Linked DNA regions of Homo sapiens. The protein of the gene in region 3 interacts with the protein of the main gene of each other region in a biochemical or structural test. Each region holds a gene or a part of one and is shown on either strand. Other genes may lie near its edges.

Region 1 (6,875 bases), on a different chromosome or scaffold from region 3:
AAGTTTGTATAGCTTCCCCATGTACACACTATTATGGACTAAATGTTTATGTTTCCCACAAAACTTTTATGCCAGAACTCTAATCCATAATGTAATGGTATTTGGAGGTGGGGCCTTGGGGAGACAATTAGGTCCTAGGGGTGGAACCCTCTCCATGGGATCAGTCCTTCTATATGAACAGCCACATGACAGCTTGCTTCCTTCCTCCCTCTATGCCATGTGAGGACACAGCAAGAAGGCAGCTGTTTATAAGTCAGGAAGTAAGACCTCACCAGAATCCAACCATGCTGGCACCCTGATCTCAGATTTCCAGCCTCCAGAACTGTGAGAAATAAATGCTTGTTATTTAAACCACCCAGGCTATGGCATTTTGTTACAGCAGCTAGGGCAGACTAAGACACATATTAAGAAATTCCAGCCATCTGGTGTCCAAATTTCACACTACGATGAATAGGAAACTAGCAGCATCATGTTCTGAGAATCCAAAGAACTTAGTCACAGTGATTAACCAAAAATAATCAGGTAGATTTAACCAATGAAGATAAGTCATTTATAACCATTTATAAACAGTAGTTTACACCAAAATCTGAAAACCTAGAAATCTACAAAAAGACAATTCCTTCTGAGTACAACTATTTGTGTGCTTGTCAGTATATTATCAGAGAAAACCTGACCTTTAGAGTTTAAGCACTGTTCTAGGTCATCTTTAATAAAAATTTAATAAAAATAATGAAACTAAAAAAGATACTCTCCCAGTACCTGTTCTTCCCTCTCCTTTTCTTTGGTCTTACTTCTGTAGACTCTAGCAGAGATGGCATCCTGGGATGGAATGGCAGAGATCTGATGCAGTGGCATGCTCATCCCAACCTCTTATCTGGTCGTCTTCTTCACAGAAGAGAGTCTCCACTGGTAGAGTCATTTTGGGCCATGGATTTCAAGCTGAGAGAAAATGAAGAGAGAATAAACATAACTCAGCTAAAACACTTTAAATTTCCAAGAGTGAGCTTAACATTTTATACTTATATTCATATGTATATTTAAATAAGTTACGGCAACATAAATGTTTGGTCTTCAAAAACAATAGAAGATGAATGTCTAAGGGGAAAATTCTAACATTTCTCATAATAAGATGGGAGCACCTGAAAGAGGCAGGTGGATCACGTACATGTATAATCAGAGATATAATCTTCCATTGGCTACTTAGGATTAAAACAAAGCAGTGCCACCATTTATTTTAAGAATATTTTTGAAGTTAAACTTTTTTTTTTATCATGACCAAGCATTTGTCCTGAAATAAGCAGTGATCTTTCCTTAAAACCACTGTCTGTGAGTCCACATAATGGTGAGATCAGAGGTTAGGAAGTCCAAATTAAACTCAAGGTATCTATGATCCATACTTAACCTTCCAAAAGTAGAGACTCTACACGAGCTGTTGGCAAACTATTCCTATAAAGGGCAAGATACATATTTTAGGCACTGTGGTCCAAGTGTGTTCCAGCTAATTAACTCTGCCACTGTAGCATGAAAGCACCCATAGAGAGCATGTAAATGGGCCGGGTGCGGTGGCTCATGCCTGTAATCCCAGCACTTTGGGAGGCCAAGGCGGGCAAATCACGAGGTCAGGAGATCGAGACCACCCTGGCTAACACGGTGAAACCCTGTCTCTACTAAAAATACAAAAAATTAGCCAGGCATGGTGGCGGGCGCCTGTAGTCGCAGCTACTCAGGAGGCTGAGGCAGGAGAATGGCACAAACCCAGGAGGCGGAGCTCGCAGTGAGCCAAGATCGCACCACTGCACTCCAGCCTGGGTAACACAGCGAGACTCCAACCCCCCAACCTCCCCCCCACCAAAAAAAAAAGAGTATGTACATGAATGAGCATAGTTATGTTCCAATAAAACTTTATTTACAAAAATAGGCAGCAGGCTAGATTTGGCCCACCAGACTATAGTTTGCCAAACACTGCCGTAAAGGGTTTCCTAGGGAATATGAAGGGTCACCATGACATGCCTAAGAACCATGAGAAAGGCTGCCTTTAGGTAAAATAACAGTGTATGCATAAACTGTCTTCAGTGATTCCAGGTACTCCTGCCCTGTTTCTGGTTTTCTCTTACGCATCCCCCAAAATGTCTAATAATTGAATTGTGTGTTGTTCTTTCTCCCCACTTACCCACTGAGATCTATCCCACTCTGTATACAAAACCAATTAAACGTAAATTATCCAGAAGGTTTAATGTAGTAAAATGTTTCATGTTGTTCAAATTTTAACAGAAAATGGAAGCCTTCAACCAAAAGAATGAATCTCGAATTTGGAGATTTTCATTTATTAACCATGTGCTGGGGTAGGGGGTGGGGACAGGTGAGGCAGTAGGAAAAGGTAGGGTAAACAACAGGGCCTGACAACCCCAAGGTCACATTTGATAAGCAGTCACTTACTCTACCTCTCCCCAAACTCTACTCTGGATCAAAGGCAGGTGTTTGTAAGGCTGGTGCCAATTCTTAGTAGTGTCACTAAGCAAGCAGAGGAGCACCAGGAATCACGAAATGGCTTCCTTCACACAACTCTAGAATCAATGAACAACAAAAAGGAACAAAAACTGGGAGGGATCAACACATAGAAGAAAATTAGCTAAAATAATAATCTGTTTATAAAGTCTAGTTTTACAGTAAGTGAGTGACCATTGATAATAACAACAAAAAAAGGAAAATAGAATAGGGGATGTTAGTGTCTAGGTATCACACACCACCTACTCTATTTCAAGCCTTTGATGAGGCTGGCATAAGATGGAGCACTACTGTGCCCAAGAAACAGTCTGAATGTTTGTATTCAAGCACGTCACACAAAACAAGAGGCACTTACTGCGGAGCTGCCTTATACTCCCTGGGAGATCACAATAGTCAGTGGTAAGCAGTTTTTTCATCACTAATGCACTAACGTCCTCTATTACAGATGACAAACTCCATGGGGCCTCTTGGAATACTTGGTCAAACTGACGATATCCACAGCCCTATACCTACCATGCCAAAAGCTACCTGTGGTGCTTCTGATATAATCATCATTATTACATCATTGGTACATGCCCATGACAAGCCTGAGAAGGGCTATTTATGGCACAGAAACACAGATGCAAGAGGGTCTCAAATTTTTTACAGTTTTGAAGGACATCCCTCCTCACTGTCATTGAAGTTAGTCTTTTGATATGTACCACCACAACAAAGCAACAGACCTATAAGTTTGCCTGAAACAATCTCCCTCCTATGCCACACATATTTAGGATAAAAATGAGTTTACAAACAAACGATAAAACAGGCCATGCCATTTTTTATGTGAAGATTTACATGAAAAATACAAATCATATATTACATTATTTTCTTTGCATAATTTCCAAACATCTTTTATATCAACTAAATTAATCTTTACACAGAATAACAGTTAAACCTCAGCACTATGCCTCACAATCCAGGCATGAGGGCTTCAATTTGACTAATGCTAACTTGCAAAATACAGCCCACCTAACATGAACATTCACATCTAGAAGAGATACTGCCAAAGCTGGTTGTTGAAGAAATTGGAAATGGATGTCCATGTTCATGGATCAGAAGATTTAATATTGTTAAAATGGCAATTCTTCCCAAGTTGACATAGAGAGTCAAAGCAATCTCTATCAAAAACTGAGCTGACTTCTTTACAGAAATTTGACAAGCTGATCTGAAAATTTATATAAAATTCAAGGGACTCAGATCTGCCAAAACAACCTTGAAAAAGAACAAAGTTGGAGAGCTCACATTTCCAGATTGCAAAACTTACAACAAAGGAACAGTAATCAAGACTGTGTCATACTGGAATATGAATAGATATATCAATGGAATAGAATTTAGGGCCCAGAAATAAACCCACGTATCTATAGTCAGCTGATTTTCAAGAAGGGTGCCAAGATCACTTCTTGGGGAAAGAGTACTGTTTTCAACAAATGGTGCTGGGACAACTAGATAGCCACATGCAAAAGAAATTTGGATCTCTTCCTCACACAAAAGGAAAAACAGACAAACTACACATCATCAGAATAAAAACTTTTGTGCTTCAAAAGACACCACTGAGAAAGGGAAAACACAGCCAGTCATAATGGTTCACACCTATAATCCCAGAACTTTGGGAGGCCAAGGCAAGAGAATCTCTTGAGGCCAGAACTCAAGAAAGGCCTGGGCAATATAGCAATACTCTACCTCTATTTATAAATGTTAAAAAAAAAAAAGTCTAAAGACAACTGACAGAAGAAAAAGTTTGCAAATCATATATGTAATAAGGGACTTGTATCTAGAATATATAAACAACTCTCTTACAACTCAGTAACATAAGGGCAAGGCCAGGTGCAAGTAGCTCACGCCTATCATCTCAGCATTTTCGGAGGCTGAGGTGGGAGGACTGCTTCAGGCCAGGAGTTCAAAACCAGTGTGTGAAACATAGCGAGGCCCCATCTCTACCAAAATAATAATAATAATAATAATAATAATAATAATAATAATAATAATAAAGACAAATAACCCAATGAAAAATGGGTTAATCAACATCATTAGCCATCATGGAAATACAAATCAAAACTATTAGATATTACTTTAATTATGTTCATAATAAAAGACAAACAAGTGTTAGCAAGGATGTTGTGACACTGAAACCCTCATATACTGCTAGTGAGGATCTATGCAGTCGTTTTGAAAAATAGTCTGGCTCTTTCTCAAAAGGTTAAACATGTTATCATATGACCCAACAACTTCAATCCTAGGGTATATACACCAAAGAGAAATGCAAACATCTCCTCATATGAAAACTTGTCCATGAATGTTTCTATCACATTACTCATGATAGCCAAAAGGTGGAAATAACCTAAACGTCCATCAAATGATAAACGGATAAATCAAATAAGCTATATCCATTCAACGGAATCATATTCAGCAATAAAAAGAAATAAAGTACTGACACATGCCACAATATGGACGAACCTTTAAAAAGTTATGCTAAGTAGGCCAGGTGTGGTGGTTCGCGCCTATAACACCAGCACTTTGGGGGGCCAAGGTGGGTGAATCGCTTGAGCCCAGGAGTTCCAGACCAGCCTGGGCAACATGGCAAAACCACATCCCTACAAAAAACTCAAAACTTAGCCGGGTGTGGTGGCTCATGCCTGTGGTCCCAGCTACTCAGGAGGCTGAGTTGGGAGGATCGCTTGAGCCCAGAAGGTTGAGGCTACAGTGAGCCGGTATGGCGCCACTGCACTCCAGCCTAGGTGATACAGTGAGACCTTGTCTCAAAAAAAAAAAAAAAGAAAAGAAAAAAATTATACTAAGAAGCCAGTCACAAAGAACCATATATTACATGATGACAGTTGTATGGAATGCCCAGAGGAGATAAATCTATAGAGACAGAAAGTAGAGCAGTGCATGCCAAGAGCTGGGGTAGGAATGGGTAAACGGGAGGAAGCAGTGGATTCAATGATTTATTTTTAGGATAATGAAAATATTCTAAAATTGACTATGGTGCTGGTTGCAGAACTTTCGAGTATATTAAAGCCATAGAAATAGTAAAAGGACTAAGATAGATAGAGAAAATTTTAATTTTTCCTTTGTGTTATCCCTAATCTAACTAATCTAGATGACATGGAGATGGCTACTGTTGCCCTATCTCACTCACCCTTCCAGTTTTAAGAAGGCGATAGAAAGAGTACAAAGGTTGGGTTACCCACAAAGGGAAGCCCATCAGACTAACAGCTGATCTCTCGGCAGAAACTCTACAAGCCAGAAAAGAGTGGGGGCCAATATTCAACATTCTTAAAGAAAAGAATTTTCAACCCAGAATTTCATATCCAGCCAAACTAAGCTTTGTAAGTGAAGGAGAAATAAAATCCTTTACAGACAAGCAAATGCTGAGAGATTTTGTCACCACCAGGCCTGCCCTAAAAGAGCTCCTGAAGGAAGCACTAAACATGGAAAGGAACAACTGGCACCAGCCACTCAAAAACATGCCAAATTGTAAAGACCATCAAGGCTAGGAAGAAACTACATCAACTAACGTGCAAAATAACCAGCTAACATCATAATGACAGGATCAAATTCACACATAACAATATTAACCTTAAAAGTAAATGGACTAAATGCTCCAATTAAAAGACACAGACTGGCAAATTGGATAAAGAGTCAAGACCCATTACTGTGCTGTATTCAGGAAACCCATCTCACGTGTAGAGACACACATAGGCTCAAAATAAAGGGATGGAGGAAGATCTACCAAGCAAACGGAAAACAAAAAAAGGCAGAGGTTGCAATCCTAGTCTCTGATAAAACAGATTTTAAACCAACAAAGATCAAAGGAGACAAAGAAGGCCATTACATAATGGTAAAGGGATCAATTCAACAAGAAGAGCTAACTATCCTAAATATATATGCACCCAATACAGGAGCACCCAGATTCATAAAACAAGTCCTTAGTGACCTACAAAGAGACTTAGACACCCACACAGTAATAATGGGAAAGTTTTAACACCCCACTGTCAACATTAGACAGATCAACGAGACAGAAAGTTAACAAGGATATCCAGGAATTGAACTCAGCTCTGCACCAAGCGGACCTAATAGACATCTACAGAACTCTCCAACCCAAATCAACAGAATATACATTCTTTTCAGCACCACACCTCACCTATTCCAAAATTGACCACATAGTTGGAAGTAAAGCTCTCCTCAGCAAATGTGAAAGAACAGAAATTATAACAAACTGTCTCTCAGACCACAGTGCAATCAAACTAGAACTCAGGATTAAGAAACTCACTCAAAACCACTCAACTACATGGAAACTGAACAACCTGCCCCTGAATGACTACTGGGTA
Region 2 (7,025 bases), on a different chromosome or scaffold from region 3:
TCGCTGGGGTCTTCTCCCAACCAATTGCAGGCCAGCTTTCTCTCCCCTAATCCTCTTGGCATCTCTGCTCACTGGGCTTGGGCCACAAGATCACACCTGGCTCAACTTCAGTTTGCCCAGCTGTGAGATGAGGCCATGATTGCTTCCCTCCAGGGTTGCAGGCAGGCCTGCATTTTCTTTTTGTTTTTGTTGTTGTTATTGTTGTTGTTTTTTGTTTTTGTTTTTTGTTTTTTTGAGGCGGGGTCTCACTCTGTCGCCCAGGCTGGAGCGCAGGTGCAACCTAGGCTCACTGCAACTTCCAACTCCCAGGCTCAAGCAATCCTCCCATCTCCCATCTCCCAAGTAGCTGGGACTACAGCCACGTGCCACCACACCTGGCTAATTTTTTTAAGTTTTTGTAGAGACAGGTGTTCTCACTATGTTGCCCAGGCTGGTCTCCAACTCCTGGGCTCAAGTGATCCTCCCACCTCGGCCTCCCAAAGTTCTGGGATTACAAGCGTGAGCCACCGAGCCTGGCCAACAGGACTAAATTGATACAAGGCATGGGACTCACCATCTGAGGCCCAGACAAGGCCCAAGGCCCAAGGTCAAGGAGCCTGATCTTCACATCAGCCTAGACCCAGTCTCTGAGCCTTAGTTTTATCTTGAATAAAATGAGGCTGTCTGCATTCCCACCTGCGCTGAGGCAGGAAGGGCTGCCCCAGCAATGTGTATGTCCCAGAGCTCTGTAACCTGCATCATCCAGCTCTTGGGGGGAGGAACTGAGCCCTTGGGCCTCCCCAGCCACAGGCCGCCAGAGTCACTCTCTGACCCAGGCCAGTCCCCAGGGTTCCAGGAGCTCTGCAGAGCCTCAGTCCCCAATTGGCAGGATTTATCATCTCCACCGTCCAGAGAGGGGCAGAGACTGACCAAGGATCACACAGCAAGTCAGTGGCTCAGACCTAGGCCCCAGCGTCCCGTGCCACCAACAGCAGCAGCATTTTCATGTCAGTCACCCACTGCAAACCCCATGCTCTCAAAGGCCCTCCTCCCAACACAGGTTAGAGGACTGCAGCGGCAGTCCAGAGGCAAAGGGGCAATGGGTACCTCCTTCAGTGGCCTCCCCAGTTGGGACTGGGAGGCCTCTCCAGGGTGGCTAGGGCCTCCCATCAACTGCCTGGTCACACACAAACCTGAGCCAGTCCCTCCCGGTACCTGGCATCAGAGCCCGGAACATCTTCCTCCACACCTGGAATTTGAAGTCATCTGAGATAATTGGCAGCTGGATGTCCAGACGGGCGGGTGGGGGAGACTCTGCCAGGATCTTCTGCAGCCTGGGGGTGGGGAGGGGAAGGGGAGGCATGTGTGAGGGGGGAGGACAAGGGCTGGGGGGATTCCAGGATCTCCCCACATCGCACCCCTGCTTAAAACTCTTCCTTTGGAGTTTTGGTTTGGGAAGATGAGAAAATTCTGGAGATAAACACTGGTGATGGTTGTACAATGTGAATGTACTTAGCACCACTGAATTTAAATGCACACTTAAAAATGCTTAAAATGAGCGAGGTAGAGTGTAGTCCCAGCTGCTCAGGGAGGCTGACTCAGGAGGCTCACTGGAGCTCAGAAATTTGAGTCCAGTCTGGGCAACATAGCAAGATCCTGTCTAAAAAAAAAAAAAAAAGAAGAAGAAGAAGCTGAAAATTGTCAATTTTATGTTACATGTATTATTTTACCACTGTTTATTTGGTTTTGGTCTTTTTTTTTTTTTTTTGAGATTGAGTCTGGCTCTATCACCCAGGCTGGGGTGTAGTGGCATGATCTTGGCTCACTGCAGCCTCTGCCTCCCCAGTTCAAGCAATTCTCCTGCCTCAGCCAACCAAGTAGCTGGGATTATAGGCGCCTACCACCATGCCTGGCTAATTTTTGTGTTTTTAGTAGAGGTGAGGTTTTGCCATGTTGGCCAGGCTAGTCTCGAACTGCTGACCTCAGGTGATCTGCCCGCCTCAGCCTCCCAAAGTGCTTGGATGACAGGCGTGAGCCACTGCACCCGGCCCAACTACATTTTCTTTTAATCCTTCTGTTGGGATAAGGTCCAAGCCTCTCAGCTTCGCCAGTGTGCACACACCTACTACCGCAGCTTCCTCTTCCCTCCCACTCGCCAGCCCTCTCGCTGGCTGTCCCCTCTCCCAGCAATGCCATTCTCCCAGCAACACCCTTCTCCCAGCAATGCCCTTCTCCCAGCAACACCCTTCTGCCAGCAACACCCTTCTCCCAGCAACGCCCTTTTCCCTGCAATGCCCTTCTCCCCACAATGCCCTTCTCTCTGCAATGCCCTTCTTCTCCCAGCAATACCCTTCTCCCCGCAATGCCCTTCTCCCAGCAATGCCCTTCTCCCAGCAATGCCCTTCTCCCCACAGTGCGCTTCTTCTCCCAGCAATGCCTTTCTCCCCGCAATGCCCTTCTCCCCACAATGCCCTTCTTCTCCCAGCAATGCCCTTCTCCTAGCAATGCCCTTCTTCTCCCAGCAATGCCCTTCTCCCAGCAATGCCCTTCTCCCAATGCCCTTCTCCCCAGCAATGCCCTTCTCCCCGCAGTGCCCTTCTCCCCACAATGCCCTTCTCCCCACAATGCCCTTCTCCCTGCAATGCCCTTCTCCCCATAATGCCCTTCTCCCAGCAATGCCCTTCTTCTCCCAGCAATGTCCTTCTTCTCCCAGAAATGCCCTTCTCCCAGCAATGCCCTTCTCCCAGCAGTGCCCTTCTCCCCGCAATGCCCTTCTCCCCATAATGCCCTTCTCCCAGCAATGCCCTTCTTTTCCCAGCAATGTTCTTCTCCCAGCAATACCCTTCTTCTCTCAGCAATGCCCTTCTCCCCGCAATGCCTTTCTCCTCACAATGCCCTTCTTCTCCCAACGCTTTGCCTAGCCAGCTCCTGTTCATCCCTCCAGGCCCCAACTCAAACATTCACTCCATCCCTGGCCACCTCTTTCCCTCAACGGCCACACTGAGCACACAGTGACGCCTGTGTCCCCACCCACATGTGTCTCACGGCACCAATCTAGGAGGTCCCTGAGTGAAAGGATCCTTCCAGATCATTTCTGTCTACAACCTTGTGTTCAGGCAGGGGTGGGGCAGCAGACTGAATTGCGGGTGTGCAGGCACAATAGTGAGTGGAGAGTGAGCCGGCTGGTGTCCCTAGAAGACTGGGACAAGTCGGGCAAAGGGACAGGGCCAGGTTGCTCTCACCTGCTGGTCACCAGGCAGTATTTCTGGAGAGAGAGAAAAAGAGAATGGTGGTGAAGCCGATGGTGGGGACACTGGAAACTTTTGAGGATGGGGTAGACAACTAGGAATGCTGAGTGCAACGTCAGAAAGAATCAGAAAAGCTAAAAGAGGCCAGACGAGGTGGCTCATGCCTGTAATCTCAACACTTTGGGAGGCCAAGGTGTGTGGATTGCTTGAGGCCAGGAGTTCGAGACCAGCCTGGCCAACATGGTGAAACCCCATCTCTACTAAAAATACAAAAAAAATAGCTGGGCATGGTGGCAGGCACCTGTAATCCCAGCTACTTGGGAGGCTGAGCCACGAAAATCACTTGAACCCGGGAGAAGGAGGTTTCAGTGAGCCGAAGTCATGCCACTGCACTCCAGCCTGGGCAACAGAGCAAAGCCCTGTCTCAAAAAAAAAAAAAAAAAAAAAAAAAAAAAACGCAAAAGAGACCTAGAACTCAAGGCCACCCCTACCCCTTCACTTTTATGTGGATTACAAAAAGGTATCTTTGCCTCCAAGAAACTCTGATTCCACCTGTTAGAAAACTGTCCTAATAGGCCGGGTGCGGTGACTCATGCCTGTAATCCCAGCACTTTGGGAGGCCAAGGCAGGCAGATTGTTTGAGCCCAGGCATTTGAGACCAGTCTGGGCAACATAATGAGACCCCCATCTCTACTAAAAATACAAAAACTAGCCAGGTAAGCGCCTGTAGTCCCAGCTATGGGAGGCTGAGATTGGAGGATTGCTTGAGCCTACAAGGCTGCAGTGAGCTATGATCATGCCACTGCACTCCAGCCTGGGTGACAGAGTGAGACCCTGCCTTTAAAAAAAAGACCAGGCGCGGTGGCTCACGCCTGTAATCCCAGCACTTTGGGAGGCTAAGGCAGGTGGATCACAAGGTCAGGAGATCAAGACCATCCTGGCTAACACGGTGAAACCCTGTCTCTACTGAAAAATAGAAAAAATTAGCCAGGCGTGGTGGCGGGTGCCTGTAGTCCCAGCTACTCGGGAGGCTGAGGCAGGAGAATAGCATGAACCCAGGAGGCGGAGCTTGCAGTGAGCCAAGATCCTGCCACTGCACTCCAGCCTGGGTGACAGAGTAAGACTCCATCTCAAAAAATAAAAAATAAAAATAAGAGTGTCCTAATAAATATATAAACCTACAATGTCTATGATATGAATAGTGCTCACTTAATACAATGTCCTTATGCAGTGCTCAACCTAAACAACCATATAGCAGTCCTGAGGCCTGCCCCTCCCGGCTGTGTGCTGCTGGCTTATCCCTGCCCCTCTCTGGGCCTATCTGACAATGGGATGAGGTCTCTGGGCCCTGAGCAGGGGGCTGAGGCAGGGAGGGGGGTCACCCAGTGCTCACCATGAGGAACTCAGTCTGCGGCTTGTCCGCCACCTCCTCCAGGACCTTCTCCATCTGCCGCAGCTGCTCCAGGTAAGAGTTCAGGCTCCCCAGCTCCCGGCGCAAGGCGACCCCTGCCTCACCCCGTACACGCTCTGCCTCGCGGTCCAAGGAGCCCTCCAGTGCAGCCAGGAACACCCGCATCTTGCCCAGCTGCTCCCCCACGGCCCCCCGGAACTGACGCACTGTCTCCTGCAGGGATGGGGCAGTGATTGAAGGGATAAAGACTCTTGGCTGGAGACCCCTAGCCTGGCCCCCAGCCCTCAGACATGGCCCTGTGAAGTCCTCACCTCCACCTCCACCAGCTGATGCTCCAGCACAGCCACACTCTTCTCCTTGCGCATGCATGCCTCCTGCAGCTGCAGTTTCTGCTGTGGCAGCTGTGTCTGGGGGTCGAGGCATGGAGAAGTGATGGGGATGCCACCCACCCAAAACCCACACCTCCCATCCTAAACCTGCCCTCTGTGGCTCAACCTCAATGCCAGCTCCTCCTCCAGCCATCTTCCCATCCCCAAACCCACTTACATGCCTCCCAGCCCCAGCCAGTGCTACTCCTGAGGTCCGAATGCTTCCCCTGCCCCTTGTCTATTTTGGTGCGGTTTTTTATTTATTTATTTTGGTGTTTTGTTTTGAGACAGGGTCTCACACTGTTGCCCTGGCTGGAGCAGTGGCATGATCACAGTTAACTACAGCTTCAACTTCCCAGGCTTAATTGACCCTCTCACTTCAGTCTCCCAAGTAGCTGGAACTATAGGCACACACCACCGTGCCCAGCAAATTTTCTGATTTTTTTTTTTTTGAGTTGGAGTCTCGCTCTGTCACCCAGGATGCAGTGCAGTGGCACAATCTCAGCTCACTGCAACCTCCACCTCCTGGGTTCAAGCGATTCTCCTGCCTCAGCCTCCCAAGTAGCTGGGACTAATTTTGGTGCACCACCACGCCTGGCTAATTTTGGTATTTTTAGTAGAGACAGGGTTTCACCATGTTGGCCAGGCTGGTCTCAAACTTCTGACCTCAGGTGATCCACCCACGTCAGCCTCCCGAAGTGCTGGGATTAGACATGAGCCACCACTCCTGGCCATGATTTTTTAAAATATTTTTGTAGAGACAATCTCACTATATTGCCCAGACTGGTCTCCAACTCCTGGCCTCAAGCAATCCTCCCACCTCAGCCTCCCAGCATGCTGGGATTACAGGCATGAACCGCCACACCCCCAGCCCCTTGTCTGTTTTGTTGACCCCTCCCTGGCCTTGCCTTCCCTGATCCCCTCTGCTCAGCAGTCAGCCCCATAGCACAGGTCTTTGCGAGGATGACAAACATCAGTGTGGTTTGGTCTCTCCCACCAGACAGGCAGGCACAGAGCTTGGCACACAACAGACCTCAGGGGGTACATGAAGGATATATGAAAGAAGAAAGGCAACCTACCCCTACTCCTGGGCTTCCTCTCTTACTTAAAAGCAGAACATCAGCCTCAGTCAGCCTGTCAGCCTGACCACCAAGTCAGCCTGCCTGTACACACATGGGCTTGGAGTAGGGGGCAGGAAATTTAATTAAAATGTCCCCTGCTGGCCGGGCGTGGTGGCTCACACCTGTAATCCCAGCACTTTGGGAGGCCAGGGCGGGTGGATCACGAGGTCAGGAGTTCAAGGCCAGCCAGACCAAGATAGTGAAACCCCATTTCTACTAAAAATACAAAAATTACCTGGGCGCTGTGGCAAGTGCCTGTAATCCCAGCTACTCGGGAGGCTGAGGCAGGAGAATCACTTGAACCAGGGAGGCGGAGGTTGCAGTGAGCCAAGAATGTGCCACTGCACTCTAGCCTGGGCGACAGAGCAAGACTGCATTTCAAAAAAAAAAAAAAAAATGTCCCCTGCACAGACCAACCATTCTGTGGTCTAGATCTTACCCAAGACCTCAAATGCAAATATGCAAATATAGGAGAGCTCCCAATACTCCTGCCAAAGCCATTTTTTTTTTTTTTTTTTTTTTTTTTGGAGACAGGATTGCCTAGGCTGGAGTGCAGTGGCAGAATCACAACTCGAACTCCTAGGCTCAAGCAATCCTTTTGCTTCAGCCTCCCGAGTAGCTGGCACTACAAGCATGAGCAACCATGCCAGGCTACAAAGCCACTTCTTTGCTGGGAGGTGCCTGACCATGGAATCAGTTCCATTCCTGCCTCAATGACTTGCAACCTGTTTCCTCCTCTGCAGATTGGGAACAGCAATCCCCACCTCAACAATTTGGCGCCCCCACTCTCCCAGGGGAAACTGGGGGACCCTCTAGGCGGTGTTTGCAGAGTCCCCTCCCAGCAGGAGCCACAGGGTTGAATAGGAGCTGCCAGATCAGTCTCCTTCCCGGGACATCC
Region 3 (7,025 bases):
GGCTACTGCTAAATTGTTGAGACAGAATGCATATGTGAACTAGAGAAATATACTCTGCTCCAAGATATCTGTGGTTTGCAGACATTGCTAAGTGATTCCTATGTCAAAATTTTAATATAGTCTCATAACAGCACTTTATCTGGCTGAAACTGACTGCCTTTTTCTTCAAATACATGTTTGCTTAGCTATATATTTTGCTACATAAATTAGATATTAATTTGCAAAGCACTTGAGATCTAATTAATTATAGTAAATTTATTTCTGCTTTATCTCAACAACAGCTCCAAACAATACCCTATAGAGACCTTGGAAGAAGAATTAGAAAACAAATAGAAGAAAAGCTATTGTTTCATGAATAGTCCCTGTTTGCCTCATACCTGCACATTTCAGAGTGAAGACCTGCACATTCAAGCTCTGGTAAATTACTTCTACTGCCACCTCTTGCAAATGTACCTCAGAGAGGCCACACATTTTGAGGAAGCAAACATTCTGGACTGCTATGCAGATAGGCCCATCATGTGAAAAACTGGCTAGATACTAATGCCTGCCATTGGTTAAAAGCAGCAGGTATATTTCACAAACTTTGAATTCCTTTGCTTCTTGGTGGAGCTTCATGTATCTAGACTTTTCACTATGAAAGTTCTGAAACATACACAGAGGTAAAATGGAAAATCCAATGAACCCAGGTGGAGCTTTAGATTTTTTTTCTTTTTTAAAGACAGAATCTTGCTCTGTCACCCAGGCTGGAGTACAATGGCACAGTCTAGGCTCACTGCAACCTCTGCTTCCTGGTTCAGGCGATTCTCTTGCCTCAGCCTCCCGAGTAGCTGGGACTACAGGCGCGTGCCACCACACCAGGCTAATTTTTGTATTTTTAGTAGAGATGGGGTTTCACCATGTTGGCCAGGCTGGTCTCGATCTCCTGACCTTGTGATCCGCCTGCCTCGGGCTACCAAAGTGCTGGGATTACAGGCGTGAGCCACCACGGCCAGTCGCAAACTTATCTTCATTTAAATGAAACTCATATCCCATCAGCACGTAAACTGTTTTAAGGATGGGAAAATAGGATTCTAAATCGCAAAGGATGAGCAAACTGGTGCTACTGCCACCCGAGGTTGGTGAGCACTACTTCAGCCCACAGCTGTCTCTTTTTAGGCCTAAGAAAAAGTATTAGGAACTAAGTAATTTAAGAAGGACTTTTAATGACTGAAGCCCAACAGATTTAAGTTCTTTTGTCTCCAGGTTAAACTACCCATCCTCTTACCTTTAATTTTCTGCTTGTATTCTTCTGGTCGGTGGAGGTACATGGCTGCAGCGTCACCATTGAGAGGATCTATGGGGTTAGGATAGGCCAATAACTGAGGCAGGAAGGACTCAAATATATTGGTAAGATCTGAAAAACCAAACAAACATGTCACACATGGGAAATGCAAGTTCACCTAAAATTCACTTGCATTCAGTAGTCAAGCTGCTTACCTTCTTAGATATTCACACGGGGATGATTCTCCATACGAGTGTGCTCTATTACATGTGACTTGTATTACACATTCATTTCAATACCAATTTAAACATTTTAATTTTAATTTGAAGAACGAGATAAAGATATACCTGACATTCACTTTGAAGGACAATTTTCCCAATTCTATTTCACTCTATTTATATGGCTATTTCACACAGCCATTTTCTACAGCTTACAAAACCCCCCACTCTGAAAGGTATTCAGATGCTGGGTCTTAAAAGAATTGAAGACAGTTTTTGTGGGGTTTTTTTGTTTGTTTTTTTTTTTGAGACAGAGTCTTGCTCTATTGCCCAGGCTGGAGTGCAGTGGTGCAATCCTGACTCACTGAAACCTCTGCCTCCATGTTCAAGCGATTCTCCTGCCTCAGCCTCCCAAGTAGCTGGCACTACAGGCACCTGCCACCATGCCTGGCTAATTTTTGTATTTTTAGTAGAGACGGGGTTTCACCATGTTGGTCAGGATGGTCTCAAACTCCTAACCTCAAGTGACCTGCCAGCCTTGGCCTTCCAAAGTGCTGGGATTACAGGTGTGAACCACTGCGCTCAGCCTTGAACACAATTTTATAGGACTTGACATTTAATTCAATTCTTGCAACTTCTAATGGAGGTAAATATAACCAATTTTTCAATTATTCTGGGTAATGAGGATAGGAATCTATATGGACCACATAAGACTACAAATATTCATAAGACAGATAAGCACCAATCTACTGCATTTATTTATTTAAAAAAGTTTTTTTTTTGAGAGAGGATCTCACTCTGTTGCCCAAGTTGGAGTGCATAGGTGTGATCATACCTCACTGCAACTTCAAACTCTTGGGCTCAAGCCAACCTCCCAGCCTCAGTCTTCCAAGTAAATTGGACTATAGGCATGTGCCACCATACCCAGCTAATTTTTTTTTTTTTAAATAGAGACAGGGTCTCCTTATGCTGCCCAGGCTGGTCTTGAACTCCTGGACTCAAGAGATCCTTCCATCTTGGCCTCCCCAAGTGCTGGGATTATAGACGTGACATTTATTAACTCCTTTCTTGCCAGGCATACACAGATGATATCTACACACAGTTAGCAAACAACAAACACCTGCAGTTACCCAGCGTTTTAGAAAAGCAGGCCCTGAGAACCTGGGTATAACACAACCCACACACCCCATAGCTCAGATATGCTGTAACTTCCACACTCTGCTCCTCAGTGAACTGCAGCACCCCTGAGAAATGGAAGGACATGAGAATGCTTCCATGTCTCTGCCCCACTCCAGCTGCTTTGTCATGTTTTATATAAAACATTCCTGTTTCTGGAGACAATGCTGAAGTATACTAAGTAGCATAAAAAACTACTCATTAATTTAGTCAGCTCTTTCAACCAATTTTGCTTTTAACAATGGGCGCTCCTTTGCAGTATTACAGATGAATGCTTTGCCAAGCCACATTGCTTGAGATTTGTGGTTCTCAGCCAAGGGTGATTTTGCTCCCCATGGAATTTGGCAATGTCTAGAGACATTTTTGGTTGTCATATCTAAGCGGTGCTACTGGCATCCGGTGGGTGAAGGCCAGGGAAGCTGCTAAACACCACAATGCACAGGACAGCCCCACAACAAAGGATTATCTAGACCAAAATGTCAGCAGTGCTGAGGTTAAGAAACCCTGATCTAGATAAAAGCGGTAGGCAAACCTTTTTGTAAAGGGTCAAATACTTTTAGGCTTTGCAGGCCACATATGGTCTCTGTCATAACTACTCAAAACTCAGCTCTGCCACTGTAACACAAAAGCAGCCAAAGTATAGGTCAACAAATCGATGTGGCTGTATTCCTATAAAACTACATATACAAAAACAAGTACCCAAGGTCTGCCCAACTTTGCTCTAGAAAATCTTACCTATAAGAGGTGGCTCTTATCACTGTAAGGTTAAGAAGCTGAGCAGTTAGAGACTAATCTAGAGCTGTGTTACTCAACCGAACTTTCTGCAGTGATAAAAATGTTTTATATGTGCTCACCTAAACCAATAGCCACTAGCCATAAGTGGCTACTGAGCACTCAAAATATGGCCAGTGTGAATAAGGAAATTAATTTTCAGTTTATTTAATTCTAATTAAATTTAAATAACCACACATGGCTAGTAGATCCTGTATTGGACAGTGCAGGTCTAGAGAATGATGGGCTAGAGGGTCCCATGACAGCTACCACGTCCTGTTCTCACACACCAGGTATTGACACAGAGCAGCTCTGCCTTACAACAAAAGCCACAGACTTGGGGTGATTTCATCAGAGTCTATTTCACCTTCATAAGGCTGACTTCAGAACGGTCCTAAAGAGCCACTTTATAGTAAGGTTCTCATGTACCACGAAAGAAATCCTGACACTCCTAATCAAAAAAGCAAAACAAAAATCACCTTCCTATATAACCCCCAAACTATCTGCAGTAAGATTTTCACCAATGTTTTATCTACAATTTTTTTAAAAAGGGAAACAATTATTATGGTACAAAACCATTGAAAACTATTTGTTTTCAATGAAAAAAATGCTTATACTTGAATGCTGGGTAGAGAAAGGCCATAAAATGGTATGTTTTCTAGAATTACAACTATGTACAGTGTGTATGCATAAGACAAACATTTTAAAAAGCTACCTCAAGGCAATAGATGTGTAACTTCTACTTTTCACATTTCAAATGACATTTCTTTTGCCTTTAAAAATCAACATTTTTGGCTCACACCTGTAATCCCAGCACTTTGGTAGGCCAAGGTGGGTGGATCACATAAGGCCAGGAGTTCGAGACCAGCCTGGCCAACATGGCAAAACCCTGTCCCTACTAAAAAATACAAAAAATTAGCTGGGTGTGATGGCGCGTGCCTGTAGTCCCAGCTACTTGGGAGGCTGAGGCAGAATTGCTTGAACCTGGGGAGGTGGAGGTTGCAGTGAGCCAAGATTGCACCACAGTACTCCAGCCTGGGCAAGTGAGTGGAACCCTGTCTCAAATAAATAAATAAAATAAAAATAACATTTTCCTGTAAATATGTCCTTTCTATTTTGGCATATGTTTGAAATATCCAATAAAACATGAAAAGTCTGAAAATGTTTTTATTTTCTTATCTTTATCCTTGGGTGGGTGAGTTATTAAGGCAGTGGTAGAAAATGCCAAAAGGTAAGCAAATTCAGTTTTACAGGCCAGACGCAGTGGCTTACAACTGTAATCCCAACACTTTGGGAGGCTGAGATGGGCAGATCACCTGAGGTCAGGAGTTTGAGACCAGCTTGGCCAACACGGTGAAATCCCGTTTCTACTAAAAATACAAAAATTAGCTGGGTGTGGTGGCAGGTGCCTGTAATCCCAGCTACTTGGGAGGCTGAGGCAGGAGAATTGCTTGAACCCAGGAGGTGGAGTTTGCAGTGAGCCCAGACTGCGCCATTGCACCGCAGCCTGTGCAACAAGAGCAAAACTCTATCTCAAAAAAACAAAAATAAAAACAAAAAACAGTAGTTTTACAATTGAATGTGATCCCATAGCAGGGAAAAGTTAAACAATAGTTACATTAACAGTAATTTTTTTTTTTTTTTTTTTTTGAGACAGAGTCTTGCTGTCAACCAGGCTGGGGTGCAGTAGTGTGATCTCCACTCACTGCAAGCTCCGCCTCCTGGGTTCACGCCATTCTCCTGCCTCAGTCTCCCCAGCAGCTAGGACTACAGGCACACGCCGCCACATCCAGCTAATTTTTTTGTATTTTTAGCAGAGAAGGGGTTTCACCGTGTTAGCCAGGATGGTCTCGATCTCCTGACCTCGTGATCTGCCCGCCTCGGCCTCCCAAAGTGCTGGAATTACAGGAGTGAGCCACTGCGCCCGGCCCATTAACAGTAATATTAACAGTAATGGCAGGTTAATGCTTACATAGTGCTTACTACAAGCAAGGAACTCTTCCATGGTCTGCATATACACTCTTAATTTCACTACAGTCAATGAGGTAGGCACCATTTTACAGATGGAGAAATTGAGGCACACAGAGCTTAAGTATGGATCAGGAACTCAAACCTGAGCTCATCCACTATGCTGCCTCTGTTAATGGATAAAACACACACTGCCGCTGCCGCAAATTTCACGAAGGCACAAGCTCCCCATGTCTCTGGGTCAAAATCGCATACCATCGCTGGCAGGGAAGCTAAATCCATGGATCAGAGATGATCACCCTCCTCCCCAAAGAATCCCTCACAAGTGCAAAGAAGCATGCTAAGCAAAGGACGTTCAGATGTTTCTGTGGCTATTCACAGAGACGGTGTGCTTGTTTTCATGCAGCTCCACCGCAGGAGGTAACCCGCAGACACCTGCACACAGCGAACGGAAGGCTCCTCCTGCCATATTATTATTACAGGTGCTGCTCAAAAGGATTAGCAGCTGGATGCTATTACATAACAACGAAAACCTTTAAAAACAAAGCATAGGTTTTATGTTCTGAAGTAATGTTCAGAAGTGCTTCAGGGCTAGAGAAATATCACAGACAACGTGTTATAAAACTAGGAGTTTAGCGTGTCCCAGAAAGAGATTTTATACCCTTTCCTACTACTTTTAAGTTTCCTCAAGCTACCAATAAAAGGCTTTGCCTATGAATTTGTTCCAAACAAATAAAAGAACCCTTAATTATTGGTTCTTCCTTCCTGTATCTACCGTCTTCCTGCATTAACACATTTTTGATCCATTTTACAGAAGTGCTGAGTCACACCTGTAAAACAGAAGAGCAGAAAAGGAAACACATGAGGCCCAGTTTTGGGTGAAGATGACAACTTCGGGAGGCCAGGATGTGATGGCTCTGCCATCTTAAAGCAATAAGGCCTTCCTGCAAGTGGCTAACACAGTGATTACTCCTAAGGGTGCTTCTGAAAGGAGCATCTCTCAAATGTGCAGATGTGCAGAAAGTCTTCTTTCAAGATAAATACACTGGCAGAGAAGACTAAAACTATAAATCAAGAATAAAATAAAGATACTCATCTGTAGAAAAATAAAGAACACTTTTTCCCTAGATTTTTGTTAATGATAAAACGATAAAAATGTGTCGATAATAATAACGATAAAAATGTGTCAGTTCAAAGATCTTTATCTAAAAACATTAACCTTCAATTTTTTTAAAGGAAGAGAGCCAGATACAGTTGACCTAAACCTGTAGAGTACAGTCAGCCGACCCCATTTCCGCCTGTCTTAACTTTTAAAGGAAGTCCCAAGATTCCTGAGTATATGGTTTATGATGAGCAAACAGCTCTTACTTTTGCCTTAGACTCAATTAGAACCAAAATGTGGTTCATTAGCACTGACTCTTCAGTCTGATCTTACATTAATGTTAAAATTATAACACTCATATCTCAGTTTAGGCATATAATTTATATTCATATTTACTATTTAAAAACAGGCTGGGCACAGTGGCTCATGCCTGTAATCCTAGCACTTTGGGAGGCCGAGGCAGGTGGACTGCCTGAGGTCAGGAGTTTCACACCAGCCTGGCCAACGTGGCAAAACCCTGTCTCTACTA

What was found. Proteins that work in one complex are often made in the same cells at the same time.
Region 1: the proteins of UBE2H (region 3) and MARCHF8 form a complex in vitro, tested with the Homo sapiens proteins (2 studies listed by BioGRID).
Region 2: the proteins of UBE2H (region 3) and TRIM72 form a complex in vitro, tested with the Homo sapiens proteins (2 studies listed by BioGRID).

The regions. Positions count from the first base shown.
Region 1 is NC_000010.11:45,532,351-45,539,225, forward strand, and holds the start of MARCHF8 (E3 ubiquitin-protein ligase MARCHF8), read right to left. Parts: upstream 3,022-6,875; 5' UTR 2,861-3,021; intron 2,821-2,860; exon of another isoform or gene 2,752-2,820; intron 940-2,751; 5' UTR 862-939; coding exon 760-861; intron 1-759. UniProt on the Homo sapiens protein: E3 ubiquitin-protein ligase that plays several important roles in innate immunity and adaptive immunity.
Region 2 is NC_000016.10:31,217,115-31,224,139, reverse strand, and holds part of TRIM72 (tripartite motif-containing protein 72), read right to left. Parts: exon of another isoform or gene 7,005-7,025; intron 5,046-7,004; coding exon 4,950-5,045; intron 4,852-4,949; coding exon 4,621-4,851; intron 3,245-4,620; coding exon 3,222-3,244; intron 1,314-3,221; coding exon 1,195-1,313; intron 1-1,194. UniProt on the Homo sapiens protein: Muscle-specific E3 ubiquitin-protein ligase that plays a central role in cell membrane repair by nucleating the assembly of the repair machinery at injury sites.
Region 3 is NC_000007.14:129,837,943-129,844,967, forward strand, and holds part of UBE2H (ubiquitin-conjugating enzyme E2 H), read right to left. Parts: intron 1,394-7,025; coding exon 1,265-1,393; intron 1-1,264. UniProt on the Homo sapiens protein: Accepts ubiquitin from the E1 complex and catalyzes its covalent attachment to other proteins. E2 ubiquitin conjugating enzyme that transfers ubiquitin to MAEA, a core component of the CTLH E3 ubiquitin-protein ligase complex.